Regions from separate parts of the Homo sapiens genome. Here regions 2 and 3 are each linked to region 1. Evidence: fine-mapped expression QTL. A gene starts in region 1. Each other region holds a variant in brackets. All regions are shown on one strand. Distances are from middle to middle. Region 1 holds the start of ROBO3 (roundabout guidance receptor 3). Region 2 overlaps MSANTD2 (Myb/SANT DNA binding domain containing 2). Region 3 overlaps CCDC15-DT (CCDC15 divergent transcript).

Evidence for each region.
Region 2: its variant is fine-mapped to the expression of ROBO3 in whole blood (INTERVAL, PIP above 0.99).
Region 3: its variant is fine-mapped to the expression of ROBO3 in whole blood (INTERVAL, PIP above 0.99).

What each region holds. Positions count from the first base shown.
Region 1 is chr11:124,860,579-124,868,759 of GRCh38, reverse strand. ROBO3 (roundabout guidance receptor 3) reads right to left here and starts at 3,328. Exons shown (of 28, transcript NM_022370.4): 1 at 3,023-3,328. The coding sequence starts at 3,182. RefSeq lists enhancers at 1-286, 2,336-3,012, 5,352-5,853.
Region 2 is chr11:124,779,980-124,788,160 of GRCh38, reverse strand. All of the region lies in intron 1 of MSANTD2 (Myb/SANT DNA binding domain containing 2), which reads left to right. Among named protein-coding and RNA genes, the nearest start is that of MSANTD2, 16 kb to the left of the region's middle. The variant G/C (reference allele first, on the strand shown) is at 4,738.
Region 3 is chr11:124,943,011-124,951,191 of GRCh38, reverse strand. It overlaps CCDC15-DT (CCDC15 divergent transcript), which reads left to right. Exons shown (of 3, transcript XR_948134.3): 3 at 633-2,000. LOC107984406 (a long non-coding RNA gene) reads right to left here. Exons shown (of 2, transcript XR_001748429.3): 2 at 7,602-7,792. Among named protein-coding and RNA genes, the nearest start is that of CCDC15-DT, 6.9 kb to the left of the region's middle. The variant G/A (reference allele first, on the strand shown) is at 3,656.

The DNA of each region.
Region 1 (8,181 bases):
GTGGGGAGAGATTGAGGCTCCAGAGGGAAAGAGAATCCTCTGGTCGTTCCATCTCCTATGCTTCTCTGCGGAGCTCAGTCCCCACCTGCCTACCCTCTCCCTCTGCAGGATCCAATATGTCCTTATTGGCAGACGTTCCGCGTTCCTCGTCTCAAAGGAAGATGCCTACAGACAGGCCGGTTAGTAGAGGGATCGGGACACAAACTTCTAGGCCGGCTTTCTGGACCACCTAGAGACCTCCGTCTCCTCTCCTGCCAAGTTTAAGCGGGAGTGGCTGAACCACGCTTGGCGAGTAGACCGCTCCCTCGCCTCCTGCCCAGTGGTTTCCATCTCCACCTGCACTGGTTCACGGATCGTCCTTGCTCAGTGAAAGACCATAAACCGTGCACTGGAGCCAACAGTTTGTTCTTGACTTCTGCAAGGTCCTGGCTCAGTGAAATTGGGAATGTGGACTGGCTTGGGATCCCTTATGAAAGGCAAGACGGGAGTGACAGGGCCGGGCCTAGAAGGGCTTGTCAACCTGGATTCTATGAATCGGCACAGGGCCCTTCTTACTGACACCCCGGATAATCACGCTTCATTTCAAGGGTCCTGTGAAGTCACAGGAATTGAACGCAAATAGCAGTAGAAATGTTAGTAAGGCTCCTTTTCCTGACAGGTGCATAGTTTCCAATAGATTATTCTACTGATTGATGTTCCTCTACTTCCCCTGTTCACTCCGATCAGTTCATCCACATATTCTGTCCTACCTGTCACTTGGCCTGCAGACTTTGGCCTGTTTCACCTTCTGCAGCACGGTTAGGATCCCGGAGCCTGTTATACTCCGGCACTCTCAGCCCCTAGTCCAGCCAACAAAAGTGGATTTGTAACCCGTGGCGGCCAGTAGGTGCCACTGCAGCCTTTAATAACCTGCTGTAAAATAACCAGGGACCACTTCAAGCATCTGTTCTGCCCCCTGCCCCCTCCCCCTGTTCCCCCCTTCCTACCCTGTTCCAAAATCTGCAGGAACCTCCCGCTTCCAGCCCGCCTGTGAGATTGGGTTTCATTTCCTGCCCCCCCTCTTAGAAGTTCTGTTGTAGACAAAGCTGGACAGGCTGACCCGTGCTGGCGCTGTTCTGAGTTTATTTTAATTGCCTGGAGTCAAGAAGATCGATTTCTGTCCCACTTGGGAGAGTAATTTTCTCCATCTCCTCCCTTCCAAATGGAAATCTCTGCTTTTCACCCTTCTCTTCTCCTCCATCTCCTCCCATTCCCAATTTTGGAACACCCCGTGGTGAGCAACACTGGAGTGATTGAGAGCAAGTGTTGCTGTTGAACCAACCAGGGCTGGAATCTCAGACTTTGACGCTTCCTAGCTGTAAGAACTTGGGCAAATTATTTAACTTCTCTCAGTCTCAGTTTCTTTCTTTGTGATGTGAGAGCAGTGATAGGGTTGCTCTAAGACCATAATGTATGTAAAGCCCTTGGGGGATAAACGTCACTACTCTGCCATTATTTAAGGGCTTGTGTTCCCAGCATATGCACCTTATCTTGGCTCCTACAGTCTCTACCTGAATCAAATTCTACCAGGCCCCAATATTCTTTTTTCCCCTTGGTATAGCCCTCAGGTGTAATGGAAATGGACTGATCTGTTATCGCTAGGTTTTGCTTCATGCTGCTTTTGTGACGATTAGGGCACCATTCACTCTATAAAGCGTTTTCTCGGCGGCAAAATGTGTCTGTCAACACCTTCCTTGCATACCTCACTAAGTTTCGAGCTTAGATGAGACAAAGTATGGTGAAAACACTCTGTAAACGCGCTAGGTGAGCAGAAGCGGGACTCTGCGGGGTGCCAGCGAGAAGGGATCTGTGCTTAACCTCCTGGAAATCTAGGAGGGTCAAGAGGTTGGAGAATCGGGCTCCTCCCCCATCGTCTTTCTCCCCAATCCTTCTATACGGACCACACCCTTCTGGTCGGCCTTTTCCCCCTAATTCCTGTAGACACAGCTGCAGGCGCCCTTTCCCTGGAATTTCCCCCTCTACCCTTCCCGGTCTCAGGAGATGCTTCGACTGCAGCCTAATGAATAGCTAATGGCCATGCTAATGAGGCTCTGGGGCTCCTCCCTCAGCACCTGATGTGCCCCACACATGAACACACACATATTGCCAGGGTCTCCTTTCTCTCCACCTTCGAGTCCCCAGCACAGTGCTCGTCACTAGACTCGAGTGGGTCGAGGCAGAGGGATGGGGACCGCGTGCACCTGGAGGGAACCACACGCGAAAGCGCCCGGTAAAGCGGGGGTTCCCGATGCGGCAGGCAGGGGGCGCGCTCCGGCCTCTCCGCAGGCTGGCGGCGGCCGGCTCCCGCAGCTTCCCCGCGGCGCTAGGGGAGAGCGCGCTGTCCCAGTCATTTATTAATCACCGTAATTAGCGGTAACGACCTCGCCGCCAGCTCCGCCCGCCCGCCACAGCTCTGCCGGGGTGGGCCGGCTGAGAGTCCCGCCGCTGAAAGACAAACTTCTAAGTTTCCTTAAAATGATCGCCGCCCCTATCCCCTCCGTAGCAAACACATCCAGCATTTTGGCTTCCTCTGGTCCTAAGTGAGTTCTTGGGAAACTTCGGGGTTCCGAAGACCAGCTGCCTGGGTGGGTCACCGAGTGACCTGGCTTGGCCGAGGCCGGCGGGAGACTGTGCCCCCTCCTCTGCCCTCCCTGCGCTGGGCCCGGGCCTTTCTTAGCTCGGACTTCCCTGCCCGTTACCAGCAACGGTTCTTCTCACCTGGGGTGGGCGTTGTAGGGGAAGGGAAGGAGGTGTAAAAAGACTCAGTAGCCATCTTCTCCCAAGCCCTCGACCTCCCGCGGGTACCCCCACTCATGTGCTCGAAGCTCCAAATTATCCCTTAGACCCCACGACCCAGGGAGGCGCTGGGAGGCGCCACTCAATCCCGGACCTCGGGACAGGAGCGCTTCTCCTTCCCTTCCACGCCGCCCTCTCACCTCATCCCCATCCCAGGATCCCATATCCCCAAGAGGCAGGGTCTCACCGTTGAGAGAGGGATCGCCGGGAGGCAGCAGGGTGTGGTTGAGCGCCGCCAGCGAGGAGTTGAAGCCCAAGAGCAGCTCGCTGGAGTTGGAGATGTCCCCGGCCAGAGAGTCCGCGAACAAGTTCATCTGCAGCAGCGTTTTCAGCAGGTAGCGCAGCATGGCTCGACCCAGCTGGGATCGGGACTGGGGGCTGGGGGCCCAGCCCCTGGGTCTGAGACCCGTGGGCTGGGAGCCGTAAGCCCCTCCACAGCCTCTGCGCGCTGCGGCAGCCACGGTGCCGCTCTCCTGCCGGTGCGCCTGGGTACGGTCGGTGCCTCTTCGTGCCCTCCTCCTTCCCTCGTCCTTCTCTCCACCCCCTAGTGCCGGAGTCCCCTGGGAGCTGGGCAGGCGGAAAGCAGGTGCCACGCCGATCACGGCGTAATTAAGGGATTAATCCGCCTCCCTCCACCCTCCCACCCTTACCTCTACAGTCACTATCCGAGCAGGAGACACGAGTAGCGTAGCGCGCGAGTTGGAGTCCCCGCCCCGCACCCCAAGCCCAGCGTTCCGTTCTGGACGCGGCGAGAGATTTTCCCTGTCTCAAAGCACCCAAGATGAGGGACGAGGCTCTGTCGGACTCTGCCCTTCTGCCCAACTTTAGAACAGGAATCTGTCCTCTCTTTTCCCGAACCTTTTGGAAACTGAGGCAAAGCGCAAGCAATGCTCCTTGCTGCCAAAGTTCTGGTTTCCATTCCCTCCCAAGTCTAGGGGTTTGGCGACGGAAGGGCAGGAGACTGGGGTGGTTTGCAGCAAGAGTTGGGAGTAGGCAGAGAATTCCAAGACAGGTCCACCTCTCTGCCCTCTGGTCCTTTGGTCTGCAGCCAGGAGGCCAGAGGATGGAGCGGCGCGCCCTGACCCGGGAGTCCTGCTCCAAACGCCCTAATCTAGGAGTTCCTGTAGGAGACTGAAAGCCAGGGAAACCCAGGCAACTGTCATTTATTTGAATCCTTTTACATTACCCTGCTTTGACATTTTTTATTAAATTGTTTTACGTTTTTGAGGAGACTGAAATGGAACCAAGGATTCTAGGACAAAAACAAAGATAATATTATTTTTGTAAAGGCATGTGGGATTGCTGCAAAATTAGTGCAAATCTGTTCAAATCGGATAGCAGTCGTCCTTCCTGGGGGGGGCGAAAAGAAAACCATGGGCCCCTACTCCCACCTCCCACTTCCAGTCGCGGTCTGCTTCTGACTTTTCTGGAGTTCTTTCTACCTGAAGACCCACCTCGACAAACTCACTTTCCTAGACAGGAGATGGCTTTGGGGTATCAGGGAAAGAGAGAGGCCGGGGCATTCCTAACCTGAGGTAAGGCCCTGCTGATTGAAGAGTCAGTGCCAGAGTTCTGGCTCAGCCGTCAGGTTCTGGGATGAGACAACTTTCATGGGGCGACTGCTTCTGACCCCAAAGGGGTCGAGATCAGAGGGGTGGGTGCTATACAGTCGCAGACTCTGGAGTAAGCAGAATCAAGAATTGAAATATTTCAGGCAGAGCTTGTTCAAGGGAACCCGAGACATTGTCAAGGGGTGGGGGGCTTGTTCCAAGCCTCCTTCCTCAGTCCAGGCGCCTGGCTGTGAGCCTCCAACTATGGGTGTTTAGGTGCCTTCCAACCCTAGCAGTTCTGGGCGGGACGTAGAAAGGCTGGAAGCACTAGGTGTGGGGGAGGGGGTAGGTGGGAGTGGGGGTGGGGCCGGATGGACCCCCCACCCCACCGCCACGCAGCGCCCTGGGAGCTGTCCTTTTCAGCACCTCATCTGCAGGTGCCTGACTAGGGCCCTGGAGCCCCCAGGGAAGACATAAATCCGAGCAGACCCTGAGGCTGAGGACTGGGGTAGGTGGGAGACGGGCTAGAGACACATCCTTTCAAAAGCAAGAAGATAATAAGAGATTTGACGCCCCTCCCTTCCTCGCTCCAGGGTGGTATTCAGATAAGAGAGAAAGTAAGGGATGTATTTCCCACCCGAAATCTATCCTTCAGGAATGACCAACACAGAAGTGGGTTCTAATTCTACGTTTGCCAAGTACAAGACGTCACCGCTTTGGATCTCAGTTTTCCCATCTGTTAAGGAGGAATTGGAGTGCTTGATCTACTCTGACCTGTGAGATTCGAGGCTCCGGGGCCCTTTGCTCCGCCCCCTGCTGACCGCGGTCACCTGGGTTCCATCACAGCAGAGGCTGAATCGGGATAGAAACCCCACGTCCTGGTACCAGGCCCTACTCTGGGGCGGAGGGGGCCAGAAACCCTCCCACCATGCGGCTCCTGCCCGGTCCTAATGCCCTGATTTGCTCCCGGCTGGCCTCTCCGCAAACACAGGGCCTGCCAGCGTCTAGGGGCTTGTCACCCTGTTAGCGGATTTGTTCCCGGAGACGGCGCAGTTAATTGGCCCTTTATGTGGGGATCAGGGCGTATTTGCTCAGGGTTCCCTGAGCGGAGGCGCGGCTCAACCCGTGAGCAAGGCTGCTTCACAGTCCCTGTCACGTGGGTTTGGAGGCTGGACAAATAGCCGGGCCACTCTACTTTCCAGGAATCTGCTGTCTCTCCTACACTTCACCTCGTCTGGGCTCTCTCTAATTTTCACTCTCCACTTTTTCTTGTTTCTCTCTGCTCTTTCCTTCTTTGTACTTCTCTTTATCTTGATGATACTCTCCTTTTAAACCAAACTCAGATCTAAGCCAAGAGGGCTGAGTTCTCCCAACTGGGGATATCAGAGAATAAATACCTCCCAACCATAACCTAAGTTCCCTCCCTTTTCCTTCCCATTCTCTAGTGTCCTTACGGCCCTGGGCTAGGCAGAGTGGAGCAGAGAGTGGGCAGAGAAGGCCCAGCAGAAGTCACACCTCCCAGCTCTTCTGCAGCCCTCTCCCCACCTTCTCTTCTTTACTGAGGGTCAGACAGGCAGCCTAGAAACTGGCCCTGCCCCTGTCCACATCCAGCTTCTCTCCTGGCTACCCCCATAGGCAGTTCTGAAAGGGGTTTGCCTCCTACTAGTCTCCTCACTGCCTGCTCTGCTCTCTGAAAATTACCAAGACAACTCTTTGTCCTTTTTCTGGAGTGGGTATGCAACTCTTTGCAACTATGTCCATTTCCTAATTTGTCAACTGTAAGTGCCTGTACAGCACCTAAAACACTGAGTAGATGCCCTGCAATTGGAGGAGCCTCAGCCGGGGTGCATTCATTCTGTTGACTTATAAATTTCCACCTTGGGCTGGAGAAAGAGTCAGAGTTGGGTTTAGAGACCCTCTCTTCTACCACCTCAGGAAACTACTTCTTTCCCAGAGTTTTACCAACAATATGTACAGTCCAGACTTTAGAAAGGGTAAGAAAAAGAAACAGAGGTTTTGAAGGAGATTTGGCAGAAAGAAGAGAGAGTAGCAGGAAGCAGGGAGGTTGGGGCGAGTTGAATTTGTAGAGTTAGGAGCTAAGTTTGTTCTGATAAGGTTACAGCATCTGATGGGAAGAAGTGTGTGTGTGTGTGTGTGTTTGCGTGTGTGTGCATGTGTGGGTTCACAGGTAGAGCCCTAGAAAAGAGCCCTGGGCCAGGAGTTGATGAGGTAATATAGAAGAGGAATATTTCTTTCCTATGGTGGTATTTTGGGTGGGTGGATTTGCAGAGGAACATGGGAAATGGGAAGGGCAAGTGATTATGAGTAAGGCAGGAACCCTACACAAGAGTGGTGTTTTGGGAATCATGAGCCTCTAAAGGAACTCTCCATCCCACCCCCCACTGGTGTGTGAGTGTGTGTGTGTGTGTTCACGTGCTAGGGGAGAGAACAGCTACCCCAGGCTAACTTTCTTGGCCTAGTGCCAGCATATCGGCCAGAGAATGTGGCTGGGAATTTTCAGTGGCCAAGCTGGGGCCATATGGGGAGGCTTCTTGGTGGTCTAAAGCCTGCATGCCGGCTGGTAGTGGATGAAGCTGCTGGCATGTAATTGCCCAGGAGTGCAGTCTGAAGACAACCCCCCATTACTACCACTGCCTCCCCCCAATGTACACACACACTGTCCGGTCCATTTGCATCCCCCCAGAGCCTGTAGCCTGCCATCACTCTCTGCCTGGACCCCTTCCCAGGACATTAATACATATTGAGTGTGAGATTGTGTGTGTGTGTGTGTGTGTGTGTGTGTGTGTGTGTTTGCTGGGAGGGGGACAAAGAAATAACATCTGCCCCTTACCCCCACTAGGGTATGCCTGTGAATGGCCCAGCAGGGCTGCTGGCTTCAGAGTGATGATGCCAGGGGGCAGCGACCCAGCCAGCAGGGGCCAGAGAACCAAACAGGAGGGGGAATCAGAGAGCAAAGAGCAGGCACCCAGCTGGAAAGCAGACAGCAGGAGCCTGCCCCCGGCAGGAGCCAGAGTGTGTTGGCTCAACCCCTATAGCTGCTGAGATAATAAGCCAAGGCCCCCTGCATGAAAGTCCCCCTTTCCCCACAGGGTTCCAGTGGAGGAGACTGTGGGGAGACACTTTGCAACACACTCTACCAAGACTGGAAATCTGGAGACAACTGGGCAGAAATGTTCACATCCCAATACAGATAAAACAAAGTCCAGGGAGAAAAAGAGCTTTCTTGGTTCTTTTTATAAAACTAGATACAGAGCAAGCTTCCATAAATATACACTTGGTGACTATACCTGATTAAATAGTTAGTCCTCACAACTACCCCTGCAGAGCCCACTAGCCTTCTCTCTCTCTCCTTTTGCATTACAGCTGCTGTAAGAAAGTACCAAAAACTAGGTGGCCTAAAACAACAGAAATGTATCCTCTCACAGGTTAGAAGCCTGAAATCAAGGTGTCAGCTGGGCCATGCTCTCCCTGAAGGCTCCAGGGAGGGATCTGTTCTTGCCTCCTCCAGCATCTGCTGATTACCAGCAGTGCTTGGCCTTCCTGGTCTTGAGGATTCATCACTCCATCTCTGCCTCTGTCTTCTTATGGCCTTCCCTGGGTGTGTGTCTCGGTGTCTCTTACCTCTTCTTATAAGGCCACCAGTCATTGGATTAGAGTCCAATTTAATCCAGCATGACTTCACCCTAACTAATTACATCTGCAAAAACCCTCATTTTCAAATGAAGTCACATTCTGAAGTTTTGGGTGAGTAGGACTTTTTTAGGGGGGACAACAC
Region 2 (8,181 bases), 81 kb after region 1:
AGTGTGTTAGTCACCATATTCTTGCCAAGGCTATAAATCTTTCAAAATGATTAATTAATTGGCTTTTTTTTTTTTTTTTGAGACAGGGTCTTGCTCTGTTGCCCAAGCTAGAGTGCGGTGGCACGATCACCTCAACCTCCCCAGGCTCAGGTGATCCTTGCACCTCAGCCTCCTGGTAGCTGGGCCTACAGGCATGCAGCACTAAGCCCAGCTAATTGTTGTATTTTTTTGTAGAGATGGGGTTTTGCCATGTTGCCCAGGCTGGTCTCTTAACTCCTGGGCTCAAGCAATCTGCCCACTTTGGCCTCCGAAAGTGCTGGGAGCCACCACCCCCAGCACTAATTGGCTTTTATCTATAAAGGAAGAACTGAGCAAAAAAGTCAAAGAAGCTATGGCAGTATAGCCAGATGTTTGTGAAACTCGAATAATGTATGAGCAAAAAGATGTTTATTTTCATAGGTACTCCTAGGTATAAACTCCTTTTACCTATAGAGTTCACATGTTAACACAAACAGTTGTGTGAAATACTTTGAATAAAATGAAAAATCAAAAAAATCATTGAGACCAGCCTGGCCAGTATGGTGAAACCCCGTATCTACTAAAAATACAAAAATTAGCCGGGTTTGGTGGTGCACACCTATAGTCCCAGCTACTCGGGAGGCTGAGGCAGAACAATCACTTGAACCCAGGAGGTGGAGGTTGCAGTGAGCCAAGATCGTGCCACTGCACTCCATCCAGCCTGGGCAACACAGCAAGACTCCAACTCCAAAAAAAGAAAAGTCAAGTTGGCATTCGTTTAATGATGCTTTAGATGATGTGGTTTAGCTGAAGCTTGCTTTTCTCAACATGACTCTGACACTGATTGCTAGGGTAAGGGTTCTTTTGAGTATGTTACTCCTACATGTTATTCCTACCCGTGTTGCGCCTCGTGATACCACACTTTGCTGCACTACTTTATTTGAACTAACCTTAATTCATAAGGCCCCTTGGTCTCCATATGGTGTGACTGTATCATTTTTGTAATAATTATAATAATAATGCAAACATTTACTGAGTGCAGGCAATTGAGCAGACACTTTTAAATGCTGTTTTCTCATTTAATACAGCAAATCTATGATGGAGGTACTGTTACCAGCCCCACCATATAGATGAAGAAATTAAGGCACAGATAGATTAATTTGTCACAAAGCTTGCAGGTGGTGACACCAAGCAGTGTTTCTCTGGAACCCATGCTCTTCTTAACCACTTGCTTATATCACCTTTTTCTGAATCAGCCCATCTTTATTAAATTTTGACAATTGAAGTCATGTTTTTGGCAACGACGTGATTATCAACATTCATAAATACGATACCAAAATCATATAGTAACACCCAGATGGACAGCATTATGCTGATATTTCTTGTCATTGAAATGAAAAGAATTTTTTAAATTCTTGGAGATAATTTATCGTTTCCTAAGATTAGAAACACAAGGAGATTTGGAAGTCCTGAGGAAGAATTTAAGATAAGTATTGAAACCTAATAAGTAAAGACTTAATTGTATTCATTCAGTCATTCATTCAAGATCTCAGATAAATGATGGCATTTATTGGATCACCAACTCCTCCAAAAAGAAGTAAGTTTGAATTATAGGAGCAGAAACACAATGTAGAATTACTTTTTGACAGTAAAAGCAGGTAAGGATGTGGCTTATCAAAGGAGGCTATGGAATGTTCACTACCTTATGCCTGCCATTGTTTACCTAATGTGTAAATGGTTTGGGTGCTTCTTAGAGATAGATGATGGGGATGAGATGAACTGTTTTTTAATATATGATATACCAAACAAAACATATCAGCATATTGAGAAAGCTAAAAGTAGAATCAGGAAATAAGAAAACAGAGAATGCCAGCTTGGCGTGGTGGTGCACTCCTATAGTCCCAGCTACTCGGGAGGCTCAGGCAGGAGGATCACTTGAGCCCAGGAGTTTGAGGCTGTTGTGCATAATGCTTGCCCCTATGAATAGTCACTGCACTCCAGCCTGGGCAACACAGACCCCATACTAAAAAAAAAAAAAAAAAAAAAAGAAGAAATGATGCAGGGCAAATAGCAGTAACCTAGGTAAATATGTTTACTTAAACTAAATATTAAAATGAGCTATGAGCTTCCTGGCAATGGTAGCAAAAAAGTAAATACAGTGACTTGCCATAATTTTCAGTGTCTTCTGAAGAGAAGTATACCAGGTCTTAGTTTTGAAACCAAAGATGAACTTACATTAAAGACACTGAAAGTGACTTTGGATAAGCTCTTAATGTTTCTCTGCCTTGTTAATAATTTTCTTGTCTGTAAAATAGGGGTGTACCATATATAAATATGATACATATATCTTAATATATATGTAATATATACATAAGATACATATATCTTAATATATATATAACATGCTACCCAGATCCCTCTTCCAGGAATGAGACGCTAGTCCCCCCCCAGCTGTCTGGAATGCTGACTGCTGGTGGCTTCTGGTTGATTTCTTCAGAATTTCACTCTGCCCAAGGCAACTGTCTCACCCAAGGTGAGGGCCCCCCACTCTCTGGTGGCAGCCTGAATCCAATGACTGGTCAGTGCTGAAATACCAAGGTCCAACCTTGCCTCAATTCGGTATAACTCTGAAGGACAACCTGAGTTCCATACCTCATTGTAGGATTAGCAGAGGCTGCTGTTGCAACTCTACTTTAACTTCTTTCTGTGCCCAGCCCTGCTTCTCAGTCTCTCACATGTGTGGTTCCCAAGAGCCTTCCCCAGCATACCTGCACAGTCTCCTCCGACTCTCTTTCCAGGGACACTCTCTTTTAACATTATTATTAAGTAGGAATGATCATGTAAATTGCTTAGCCCAAATCTCAGCACTCAGTTGGCACTCAGGAAATGGTAGCTATGATTTACCTTCATTACATGGCACGTTGAGCCATGTAAGGAAAATGTTTGGTTTTTGTAGAAGGTACAGAAATATTTTTTCATATGGTCATTTCTCTTAGCAGTCTTTATAAAGCTAAGAATAGAATATAAAAATTCTACCAAATGAGCTATAAAAATAGTTATGATTGCCTGAATTTATTTCTAACAACTTCCTAACTAAGTTCAGATCACCCAGGATAGTTGCTTTTAATAAAACATGCTTATTTTCAGGTTTTTCTTAGAAAGGATATGTGTCAGGATATGAAGATGTATTCTTTTCTTGCATTGGTGACCTGTAGTTTACACTGTGTAAATGCAAAAAATATATATTTTTTGAATGTTTACATTTTCACAAGTTAATGAATCTGGATTTAATGTTTGTACCCAGAGGTCTTGAGGGAAGATTTCAGATAACCTTAGTTTTTGTATGATTTTATCTGCCTATCAGGATTCTTTTTCTCATAACCAAATGTGTAAAATCTACTAATGGAAACATCTCTATTATAGGTTATCTTTGCACTATAGATGGTAGTTTTTAGTGAGAAAATAACTACAGAACTGAGAGAATCACATGGTCAACAGACGAAAGGAATAAAGTGGCCTACTGCTTCAGGGGAAGCCTGCTCTGCACAGTCTCCCTTTTAAACATTGGTCTCATGAATGGAAACACCTTCGTATTTGGGAAGCAATACGATGTTGTAATGGTAAAGCTGTGTGCGGATTTTTGAGGTGGCGGGGGGGGGGTTTAATTTTTAGACATGGTTGTCCATGGAATAATTAGTTCGTAGTGGAGGGTGTTTGGGAGTACTTTAACGAAGACTGGTTCTCCCCTGCTATGCCAGAAATATTTTAGATAATTTTCTTGCATGTGTTTTAGATATCACATACTAATAAAAGTATCATTTTTAGTGTATCTGAATACCTCTTTGATGTAGTCCCCCAAGGTGTGAACTGAGAAAAAGATTCAAAGAGGTGCTGACTTAGCAACTTCAGAGGTGATGTAGGAGGTCAAATGAAAATAGCCTCTAATCCCAGTCAGTTCTTTGCCAACAACTGATTTTTTTTTTTTCCCTTTCAGGTGAGGAGGAAGTTCTAGACAAATAGTGTTATCTGCTATCTTTGGTGACTGTAGCTACTACCTATTGCTGCTTATATACTGAAATAGTTCAGTATACCCTACTTTTTTGACCTGTATTCTTGTAAATAGAAAAGCACTTGAGAATTCCTTGTCTTGAAGGATTCTTGTACCCTAAAGAAGCTCTTATACATGAACATGCATGCTAGGTGTGACCTTTACAAGTATTACTGCTCATCTGAGATCATTGTATGAGTGTCCATGAGAAGCACACATAGCATAGGGTCAGAAGCTTTATGGTTACATGAATTGAGTTCCTTGAGCCATGGAAGATGTTTGTTTTTAACAATTAGTATTGTCCTTCTTTAGGGTTTTTTTCTTAGTAATCTGAATGGGCACGACCCTCAGCTGCTAGCATGAAGGAACCTAGAAAACTTAGAACTTGATATTCATTGACAATCAAAATTTCCTGAATTTTATATTTTTTTAAAGTTTTGTTTTTACTTTCTTTTATTTTTTATTTTTATTTTTTGAGACAGAGTCTCACTCTGTCACTCAGGCTGGAGTGCAGTGGCACAGTCTCAGCTCACTGCAACCTCTCCCTCCTGGGTTCAAGCAATTCTCATGCCTCAGCCTCCCAAGTAGCTGGGACTACAGGTGTGCATCACCACACTCGGCTAATTTTTGTATTTTTAGAAGAGACAGGGTATCTCCTGTTGGCCAGGCTG[G/C]TCTAGAACTCCTGGCCTCAAGCGATCTGCCTGCCTTGGCCTCCAAAAGTGCTGGGATTATAGGCTTGAGCCACTGGACCTGGCCCTGAATTATTAATATATATTCTAGGCAAGAATCTCTTCTCATGGAGGCAGTATTGACCAGTTATAAACACAAAGTGAGTGAGTCATTGATAGCCAGATTCAGAATGAAGTGCAAGCTGATAGGATTCAGTCCTGGACAGTTCCCCACAAAGACTGAGGCTCCAGAGAGGTAAGATCTCTTCGTTTGTGGTGGTCATTCTGTTTGACCCGATTAAAATCAGAAAGCAATCGAGTCTTTCCCCCTTCCTGTCTTTGACAGAACTACCTTACATTCTTGACTATTTCATTTGCTTGTTTACTTTGTAAGGCATAAGAAATAAAATTTGGACAGGGCTGCAGAGCTCCCTTTGGCACGTGGCCTGCCCGCCCAAAGAAAGGTATAACAACAAGAATGATAGATATTTTTAAAATAGCCTTGCCCAGCTATTTTCAAAAGGTTTCAGGAGCCCCGCCCATCAAGATTCATTGATTTGATAATTTATTTTAGTTAAGCAATGAATTTTCTGATGTTCTTTGCTAAGAAAAATTTTATCCTCTTGCTAGTGATTTACTACTTTAAAATTAGCTTAATTATGTATTGAATAAATATATATTTTGAATAAGCCTCATGTGATTAGCACTGTTCTAGGCTTGGGGAATAGAGACAACCAAGATAGATAAAATCCTTACCTCATGGAGCTTACAATCTAGTGAAATAACTTCTTAGGAAACATTAAAGTTTCTTAAGTGGCATTTGATAATTTTCATATGCCAAACTCCTCTTAAAGGAATACTTATCTTTGGGCCTTGCTTCCTCATTTGTTAAGTGAGGAAGATGAACTAGATGATCTCTGAGGTTCTTTTATGTTCAGAACTTGTATTACGTTTTTCTATTTTTATTTTTTTTAGAGACAGGGGTCTCACTCTGTTGCCCAAGCTGGAGTGCAGTGGCGTGATCATGGCTCAATGCAGCCTCTACCTGCTAAGCCCAAGGGATCTTCCTGCCTCAGCCTCCCCAGTAGCTGAGACTGCAGGTGCACACCACCACACCCAGACTAATTTTTTTTTTTTTTTTAAGTAGAGACAAAGTCTTGCTATATTGACCAGGCTGGTCTTGACTCCTGGCCTTGAAGCGTCCTCCAGCCTTGGCCTCCCAGAGTACTGGAATTATAGGCATGAGCCACTGATTCTGGCTCCATAATGTTTAGAAGATGGAGCCTAGTTTGTAATTAGAACCTTAGGCAATTCCACCCACCTTTAGTGGATCAGTATATTACAAAAAGTGTTATAAAGAGACATTTGCCAAAGACAGTGATATCAGCAGGTGATGAAGAGTATCAAATGCTGCAGGGAAGTTAAATGAGTTAAGGACAAAGTTTGAGCTTCATTCAGTTATTAAGAAGACATTGGCCAGGCGTGGTGGCTCACGCCTGTAATCCCAGCACTTTGGGAGGCCAAGGCAGGCAGATCACCTGAGGTCAGGAGTTTGAGACCAGCCTGGCCAACATAGTGAAACCCCGTCTCTACTAAAAATATAAAAATTAGCCGAGCGTGGTGGTGGGTGCCTGTAGTCCCAGCTACTCGGGAGGCTGAGGCAAGAGAATCACTTGAACCCAGGAGGCAGAGGTTGCAGTGAGCCCAGATTGTGCCACTGCACTCCAGCCTAGGCGACAGAGCGAGAATCTGTCTCAAAAAAAAAAAAAAAAAAGACATTGATGATCACAATAGGAACAGTTTTAATAGAGTCATAAATTAGACTGTGATCCCATTGGGTTGAGGATTGAATTATTGTAGACATTGCCTATTCCTGTGAGACCCTTTAGACATTAGGCAGTGTTAAAGCTGGAAGATGTGAGAGCTTAGCCATAGAGACTACTAAGGAACGTAGTCAAGACTTACTTTACTATACTTGTTTCTGGATGTGTGTTTTTCTGTTTTAAGTTGTTACTTGAGGTAGTTTATCTGGCATCTATATCGATAAGTTAATCAGACAATAAGTGATCAAGTACTGTGTGATGCAGTTGGAACAGATAATCAGCATAACGAATCATTTAATATCACTTAATTATTACTTCAGAAAAAAGATTTCTTGCCCAGCAGGTAGAAAGAAGTGCTATATTTTTTAGAAGAGTAAAGTAATATCGTTGTATGCTTTCACTTTTTTTTTTTTTTTTTTTGAGACAGAGACTCCCTCATGTCGCCCAGGCTGGAGTGCAGTGGCACGATCTTGGCTCACTGCAACCTCCACCTCTCAGGTTCAAGTGATTCTCCTGCCTCAGCTTCCCGAGTAGCTGGGACTACAGGTGCCCACCACCACGCCTGGCTGATTTTTGTCTTTTTAGTAGAGACGGGGTTATGCCATATTGGCCAGGCTGGTCTCAAACTCCTGACCTCAGGTGATCCGCCCACCTTGGCCTCCCAAAGTGCTGGGATTACAGGCATGAGCCACCGCACCCGGCCCTTGTATGCTTTTACTGATAGAAATTATTTCCTTCAAGAAACGGGAATTTGGCTAATTTACCTCTTAAAGGAAATTAATGCTGCTTTATCTAAATGAACAGAATAGTGAGTGAACTGATAATTGTACTTAAAGTAATTGTTCCAATCTTTAGAATCTCCTATAAAATCTAAGATACAAGTTTACCTTATTTTAGGGTTTCAAACTAATGTATGTTATATTTTATGGAGGAAAGAACTACATAATGCAGAGCAGAATTTTTTAACGACGTTCTTGTATGGGTTCTTTAGTGAGTCCAGGTACCCCCTTGAAATCGTATGGGACAGGTTGTGTATGTGTGCATTTTTCTGAGGAGTGGATCCATGACTCAAAAAGGTTAAGAACTTCTGCCCTGGAAAGGAAAAGCAAAAGATTGAAGAATAAAAACATTTTGTATTTGCCAAAACTTGTTCTGTAGCAGTAAGTGTGAAACAAGTTTGCTACATTTTTCTTTTTGGTTTTACTTGGTTGGGGCTTTTTTGTTTGGTTGGTTTTAAAGGATTTAGGGGATTGGCAAGTCAGTTTGTCAGATGTCAATGAACAGAAAACCTAAGAAAAAAGGTAGCAAAAGTTCTGCTGGCCCCAGATGGATTTTGCCTTAAGTAATTTCCTAATCATTAGTTACAGCTCTGTGTCAAAAGATGTACATAGAAATTTATGCTAGATTCTTAACATCTTTCTTACTGTGTGCAGAAATGTTTTTTTATTTATGTATGCTACATAAGATATTGTCTTTCCTACTTTTATGCTCACAGTAACAAAATATAGCTCAAGAAATTAATGTTTTTCTTAAAGATATTAAATGGTGTTTCGTTGCCTCAATTAACTAAGAGCAACTAGTTTTAACAGTTACAATAGTAACTTTAAAGGTATAAGAAAGATCT
Region 3 (8,181 bases), 82 kb before region 1:
TACTCAAAAGAATGTGCTAAGATAAGAGGTGGTCTGAGAGTAGGCTGCTTGGAGCTGAGTGTATGCAGAGGTTGTGGTTATTGGTGCTGTCAAAGTCTATGGTATGACCAAAGGAGGGAAAGCTAAGGTGGGTTAAAGAACAAGATCACTGGAGAAGAGGTCATAGAAACCAAACACCAGAGCATTGATTGGATGATCCATGAGGATACTGAAATCACCAAAAAATATAACAAGAATGATGTTGGAGAAAGCCAGAAGCAACAATCTTGAAAAGGCTTGGAGGTTGGTGGGTAAGTATAGCTTGGAAACCCAAGCATGGTATATTCTGGTGACATGAGGTTCAAAGTTGGAGGTGAGGTTAAGAAAAAGGGAGGATGTGGTTTAGCAAAAGCACTGAGTAACTGAATAGCAAGAAGGAAACCCATCCCACCTCCACCCAGAGGGGCAAGGAACAGAAAACAGCTACTATTAGGTGAGTGCAAAAGTTATTGTGGTTTTTCATTGTTGGAATTTGCCATTTGATGTTGGAATACATGCTTGAATAAATGTGGTTATGTTATACATCAGTTTAATGGGCATTTCTCACTTTTATTTTTTTGCTAATGACTTCTTGCTGTTTATGTTTATTTTAGACTATGGAAATTATGTTAGACAAAAAACAAATGCAAGCAGTTTTCTTATTCGAGTTCAAAATGGGCTGCAAAGCAGCAGAGACAACTTGCAACATCAAGAGTGCATTTGGCCCAGGAACTGCTAATGAACGTACAGTGCAGTGGTGGTTCAAGAAGTTTTGCAAAGGATGGCCAGGCGCAGCAGCTCACACCTATAATCCCAGCACTTTGGGAGGCCAAGGCATCCGGATCACTTGAAGTCAGGAGTTCGAGGCCAGCCAGGCCAACATGGTGAAACCCCATCTCTACTAAAAATAAAAAAATTAGCTGGGCATGGTGGCATGCACCTGTAATCCCAGCTACTCGGGAGGCTGAGGTGGGAGAAGCGCTTGAACCCAGGAGGCAGAGGTTGCAGTGAGCTGAGATTGTGCCACTGCACTCCAGTGACAGAACAAGACTCCGTCTCAATTTAAAAAGAAAGAAAGAAAGAAAGAAAGTTTTGCAAAGGAGCTGAGAGCCTTGAAGATGATGAGCATAGTGACCGGCCATGGGAAGTTGACAATGACCAATTGAGAGCAATCATTGAAGCTGATCCTCTTATAGCTACATGAGAAGTTGCCTAAGAACTCAATGTTGACCATTCTATCGTCACTCAGCATTTGAAGCAAATTGGAAAGGTAAAAAAGCTCGATAAGTGGATGCCTCATGAGCCAACTGAAAATAAAAAAAATATATCGTTTTGAAGTGTTGTCTTCTCTTGTTCTACACAACAATGAACCATTTCTCGATTGGATTGAGATGTGCTATGAAAAGTAGATTTTATACAACAGCTGGCAATGACCAGCTCAATGGTTGGGCCCAGAAGAAGCTCCACAGCACTTCCCAAAGCACCAAAAACAGGTCATGGTCACCGTTTGGTGGTCTGCTGCCAGTCTGATCCACTACGGCTTTCCGAATCCCAGTGAAACCATTACATCTGAGAAGTATGCTTAGCAAATCAATGAGGCACTGAAAAGTGCAACACCTGCAGCTGACAGTGGTCAACAGAAAGGACCCAATTCTTCTCCACAGCAACTACAATGCCCGACTGCATGTCGCACAACCAACCCTTCAAAAGTTGAACAAATTGATCTATGAAGTTTTGCCTCATCCACCATATTCATCTGACCTGTGGCCAACCAACTACCACTTCTTCAAGCATCTCAACAACTTTTTGCAGAGAAAACACTTCTACAACCAGCAGGATGCAGAAAATACTTTTTAAGAGTTTGGCGAATCTGGAAGCACAGCTTCTTACACTACAGGAATAAACGAACTTATTTCTCATTGGCAAAAAGGTGTTGATTGTAATGGTTCCTATTTTGATTAATAAAAATATATCTGAGCCTAGTTATAATCACTTAAAATTCATGGTCCAAAACCACAATTACTTTTTTTTTTATTATACTTTAAGTTCTGGGATACGCATGCAGAACATGCAGGTTTGTTACATAGGTATACATGTGCCATAGTGGTTTGCTGCACCCATCAACCTGTCATCAGTCTATCTTTTTTGTTAATCTTTGCAAAAAACCAGCTCCTGGATTCCTTGATTTTTTGAAGAGTTTTTCCTGTCTCTATCTCCTTCAGTTCTGCTCTTATCTTAGTTATTTCTTGTTTTCTGCTATTTGCTCTTGCTTCTGTAGCTCTTTTCATTGTGATGTTAGGGTGTCAATTTTACATCTTTCCCACTTTCTCCTGTGGGCATTTAAGTGCTATAAATTTCCCTCTAAACACGGCTTTAGCTGTGTCCCAGAGATTCTGGTACATTGTGTCTTTGTTCTCATTGGTTTCAAATAACTTATTTATTAATGTCTTAATTTCATTATTTACCCAGTAGTCATTCAGGAGCAGGTTGTTCAGTTTCCATGTAGTGCGGTTTTGAGTGAATTTCTTAATCCTGAGTTCTAATTTGATTGTACCATGGTCTGAAAGACTGTTATGATTTCCGTTCTTTTGCATTTGCTGAGGAGTGTTTTGCTTCCAATTATGTGGTCAATTTTAGAATAAGTGCGATGTGGTGCTGAGAAGAATGTATATTCTGTTGATTTGGGGTGGAGAGTTCTGTAGATGTTTGTTAGGTGTGCTTGATCCAGAGCTGAGTTCAAGTCCTGAATATCCTTGTTAATTTTCTGTCTCGTTGATCTGTCTGATATTGACAATGGAGTGTTACAGTCTCCCACTATTATTGTGTGGGAGTCTAAGTCTCTTTGTAGGTCTCTAAGAACTTGCTTTATGAATCTGGGTGCTCCTGTATTGGGTGCATATATATTTAGGATATTTAGCTCTTTTTGGTGTATTGATCCCTTTACCATTATGTAATACTCTTCTTTGTCTCTTTTGATCTTTGTTGGTTTAAAGTCTGTTTTATCAGAGACTAGGATTGCAACTCCTGCTTTTTTTTTGCTTTCCATTTGCTTGGTAAATATTCCCCTATTCCTTTATTTTGAGCCTATGTGTGTCTTTGTACATGAGATGGGTCTCCTGAGTACAGCACACTGATGGGTCTTGACTCTTTATCCAATTTGCCAGTCTGTATCTTTCAGTGGGGGCATTTAGCCCATTTATATTTAAGGTTAGTATTGTATGTGTGAATTTGATCCTGTCAAATTATGACGCTAGCTGGTTATTTTGCCCATTAGTTGATGCAGTTTCTTCACAGTGTTCATGGTCTTTACAATTTGGTATGTTTTTGCAGTGGCTGGTACCAAAACCCCAATTACTTTTGCACCAACCTAATACTTGAGAAGGCAACAGAGAGGTTGAATTGCACACCTCCATACACAGACACATACTCACACACCAACACTTGGGAAGAAGTGTTGTTAGGTATCTCCTTGCTTTCTTCAACCCACCACCTCAAGGTCTGTGCCTCCCACTAGCACCTGGGCCAGTGGTTTCATAATAATCTACATTCTTTTTTTTTTTTTGAGACAGAGTCTTGCTCTGTCACCCAGGCTGGAGTGCAGTGGTGCAATCTTGGCTCACTGCAACCTCCACCTCCC[G/A]AGTTCAAGCGATTCTCCTGCCTCAGCCTCTCCAGTAGCTGGGATTACAGGCATCTGCCACCATGCCCAGCTAATTTTTGTATTTTCAGTAGAGATGGGGTTTCACCATGTTGGCCAGGCTGGTCTTGAACTCCTGACCTCAGGTCATCTGCCTGCCTCAGCCTCCCAAAGTGCTGGGATTACAACTGTGAGCCACCACACCCAGCCAATAATCTACATTCTTGATATGTCCAGAGAATTCACATCTAAGGCCCTGTTCCCATTTTCTGACCTCTTCAGGAATGCTTATATTCTATATAACCAGAGTTGGTTTCTCAGCAAGGAAACTGTTTGCTTAGAAATGTCTACCTTCTTCAGGAACTTAAAAGAATGGATATTGCTGGCACCAAAGTGTTGAGGCCCTGCTCCAGAGCACTCCTCATCGGAGTTGGATATAATCCCTTTTCTGTGTCTGGGGGATCCCTGGACATGTCTGCACAAAGCCCCGAGTCACTGGGTCCTTGGCAGCAGTCCACCCCACACAGAACTGATTGTTTCATGAGCATGAGGGAGCAATTTGCATTTTTGGTCACTACTTTCCTATTTGTTGCTGGCTGACCCACACCTGTAACAAATTAGAAAACTTGGTCACATGTCAGTTCTCAGGGCATAGCCTAAGGAGAACATCTATAGAAGTGAGAAACCTGCCTATCTCTACTCTCAGGGGAACTGGATTTTGGGGAATGAAGCCTCAGGCAGCTGAGTCATGGCCACTTTCAGCCTGTCTCCCAAGTTTCAGCAGGGTGTTCCAAGGCTAACTGATATTCTGGGCTATTTCCTGAAAATGGACCATAGCACTGTCCTTTTTCTTCCTCCTCCTTATCCACCTCTCAAAATAACCTTTCTAACTAGGATAACTAGAGAGTCCTTCTGCTTGCCTGTGCAGACCAGGTTTCTGCAGTAGCATTTCACTGTAAATGGCACCAATAGCAGATTGCTGCAGTTAAGCCCAGTTTTCTCAATAGCATCTGCTGTACTACTTATTGCAAAAGATTCTCTAGTTTTACCATGGATGCAGAAGTCTTTTTCTCCTTACTCTTGGTGTGTGATTAAAAGAAAATTAACAGGGATTTCAGCATCTCTCTACATTACCAAGTATTCATCTAGGAAGTTGAGAGATGCACTATCCAGATCTTCCAAGGAAGGGCTTTTTGGCTGTCTACTCCCTCCACGACAGAGCGAGACTCTATCTTAGAAATAAATAAATAAATAAATAAGTCCTTCTTTCTGTTCCCTGTTGACACTGTTGAGCCTCTGAATTATCTCAATGCTACCCCATCTCTAGTCTTTCCAAATACATAAGCCAATAAAGTTCTTTATTATTAATGCCAATTTACATTAGGTTTTATATTATTTGTAACGTAGACCATAGACAAGCTCTGAGATAAGTCCATTGGTAAATATTAGAGACTAAAAGAGACGAGCAGAATGAGTCAGAGCTACCTACAAAAATTGGTTCCTGGAGCGGCCTCAAAACTGAGCCCTTCAATTCCAGATCCAGGTCTTATGTATTCCTGCAATATGCCTCTCCTCTGATGGTTGATGGTACTTCACTGGGATATCTATTCTTTGAAGCCAAAGAAGCTTGACTAAGGTAGGAGACTTTTCCTTTTTTTTTGAGACAAATTCTCACTCTGTCGCACAGGCTGGAGTGCAGTGATGCGATCTCGGCTCACTGCAACCTCTGCCTCCCAGGTTCAAGAGATTCTTCCACCTCAGCCTCCCGAGTAGCTGGGATTACAGGCATGTACCACCACACCCAGCTAATTTTTTGTATTTAGTAGAGTCAGGGTTTCGCCATGTTGGTCAGGCGAGACTTTTACTTTAAAGCTAGTTTTAGCCAAAATTATTTTATCTATCCTTGTTACTTATATTATTCACTCTATGCTTGATTTTAAAAAAAAATCTCTTGAAGTATAAAAATTGTAATCATTAAAGATACTTAAAAAATATGTTGCAGGCTCTAAAAGCAACTTTTAAAAAGGAATTTAAAAAATGTAACCCTTAAAAGGTGTAAGACATGAGGCCTTAAAAAAGAAAATAAGAGGAAAAAGTTCTGGAGAAGAGAGTGTCATGGCTGCACAGCAACGTGAATGTAGTAAATCCCACTGAAATGGACACCTTAAAAAGTTAAAATGATAAACTGTATATTTTATATATTTTACCACAATAAAAATAAATGGAAATAGATTTTATTTTAAAAAAAGCAGTAAGGCTTTCTAGATAACTATTTGGAGAAAGCCAAGTTATTCATTTGTGTGTGTTCAGCTATGATTATTTAAATTATCTACTATTAATAGTCACATTCTCTATATCCCAAATCTTTGGGGATAGCATATTACAGTGGAGAAAGGGGTTTTAGAGCTAAACTTGGGTTTATGTTCCAGTTCTGCAATTTACTATCTGTGGTCAAGTCACATTATCCAAGTCTTTATTTCTAGATATGTAACATATGTAATAACAATTGACCCTTGAGGGTTTGTTTGTGTTTTGTGAGAAGTAATGTTACATATGTAAAATATATCATGCATAATAGACTTTCAGTAAATGCTTGCTAACTTTTTTTTAGGAAGCAAGATAGAGTCATAAAACCTTAGAAGATTTTGATTTGTCTTCCCAGCATCCCTTCTCCCGCTTTTTCTAGTAATGGCCCCACCTGTGACTGTGGGGTTAAGTACATGGCCCAGCCTGGGATAGTGTTCTAGTCTCCTTGCTACAGTGATTGATCCAGAGCTGTGCATGTGACCTAAGCCATGGCCTTTTGCCAAGATTATTTTTTAACTAGTTCCATCAAGAGTCTTCTTCTCCTGCCCGCATGACAAGCTGCACTGTCCAATATGTTAACCACTAGATACATGTGTTAAGTTTAATTACAATTAAATGAAATTTATAATGTATTTCCTCAGTCCCACTAGCCACACGGGGCTAATTAATGGCTACTATATTTGACAGCACAGATATAAAATACTGTCTTATTTCCAATTATTCCTGCTCCCTGAAAAATTTTGTTACATAATGCAAGAAATTCTTCCCTTTTTGCTTCAGATAGTTCCAGTTGAACTTCAGTCACTTACAATCAAATGATCTTGACAAATCACATTCCTTAGTTTGTCGGGCCACAAACCAGATGCAGAATCTTGGAGGCCTGACTTTGGCATGGATCTTTAAACTAGACAAAGCCAAATCCTGTAAGTACTGCAACAAGGGGAAAATTGGGGGCTGTCTTCAAGACACCTCTGCTGACAACTTAGCTAGGGCCTCCTTTTAAGAAATGTGGTCCCTCCCCATATTGAATCCTGTGTATCACAAATCTATCTTCTTAGTGTCCCTGGCCTAACCTGTGGGGGCCCAGTTTCCCTTGCTTACTAAGCTTTTTTTTTTTTTTATGGTCCTGTCACCTGCCTGATCCCTTTTCTCACATCTTGTCTCAGAACTCTCCTTTTCCTACTTAGTTTTTACTTCTGGGCCTGGCTGAAGGCAACCTCTTTCAGGGGTACAGCATTATGAACACTAGACAGGAAGCACAGCTGAGTCTAAGCTGTGCCAACTTGCAAATGTGAAGGAAACCTCTTTCAGGGGTACAGCATTATGAACATTAGACAGGAAGCACAGTTGAGTCTAGGCTGTGCCAACTTGTAAAATGTGTGACTTGGAGCAGGTTATTTAACCTCTCTAAGCTTCATGATCCTCCTTGAAAAATGGAAAAAAAAATCCCACTGCACAGCGTTGTTAGAAGGCTAAATAAAATAATATTCTAAAAGATAATTTGTAAAGGGCAATGCAAATGTTTTATCAATTATACTTGCTTATAGATGTAGGTGCAGCCTTCCCAGCTATAATATATTTCAGCTCCTAGACAGGGATCCAGGGATGGTGTCGTCTATTACTTTTGAATGTGCCGCCTTCCTCCTCTTCCACATCCCACCACTTTTATTAATGTTTGGAACATAGAGTGTTCTTCACACAGTAGGCAATTATCAGATGCTGGCCAGCTGATTCCCATTTCTGAGCCTCCCTCTTTGGTAGGAGGGTGAACGACGGCAGAGGGCAGCGAATCCTTCCCCTGACACGGTTGGTGGGTGGACACCATCTGAGGATCTAGGAGAAGGGAAACAGTGAAGGCTTTCATGAGTTGGGGTGTAATTTGTGGCTTCCCCATGATTTTTCAACCTGTTTGTATTTAAGCACTGAAGCTTTACAAGAACAGAACTCCAGAGATATTCTCCAGAATGTCCTTGCTGCATCTTAAATAGGTCAGCAAAAGCTGGATCTTTCCAGCCCTTTAATACCAATTAATTTCTCCTCTTTGTTCCTCTGGAGAGTGGCTGAATAGAGCACGTTTAGCAACCATGGACACAAGCCTGAGTCCCTCTCACTTTCTGAGGAGGCCGGAATTCTATTCAAAAATCAAATATTTACTCTCAGTATAAAAGACTTTGATGTTCTCCTGTTTTCAGCAGAGAAATGGGAGCCCCTCCTTGCTGCCC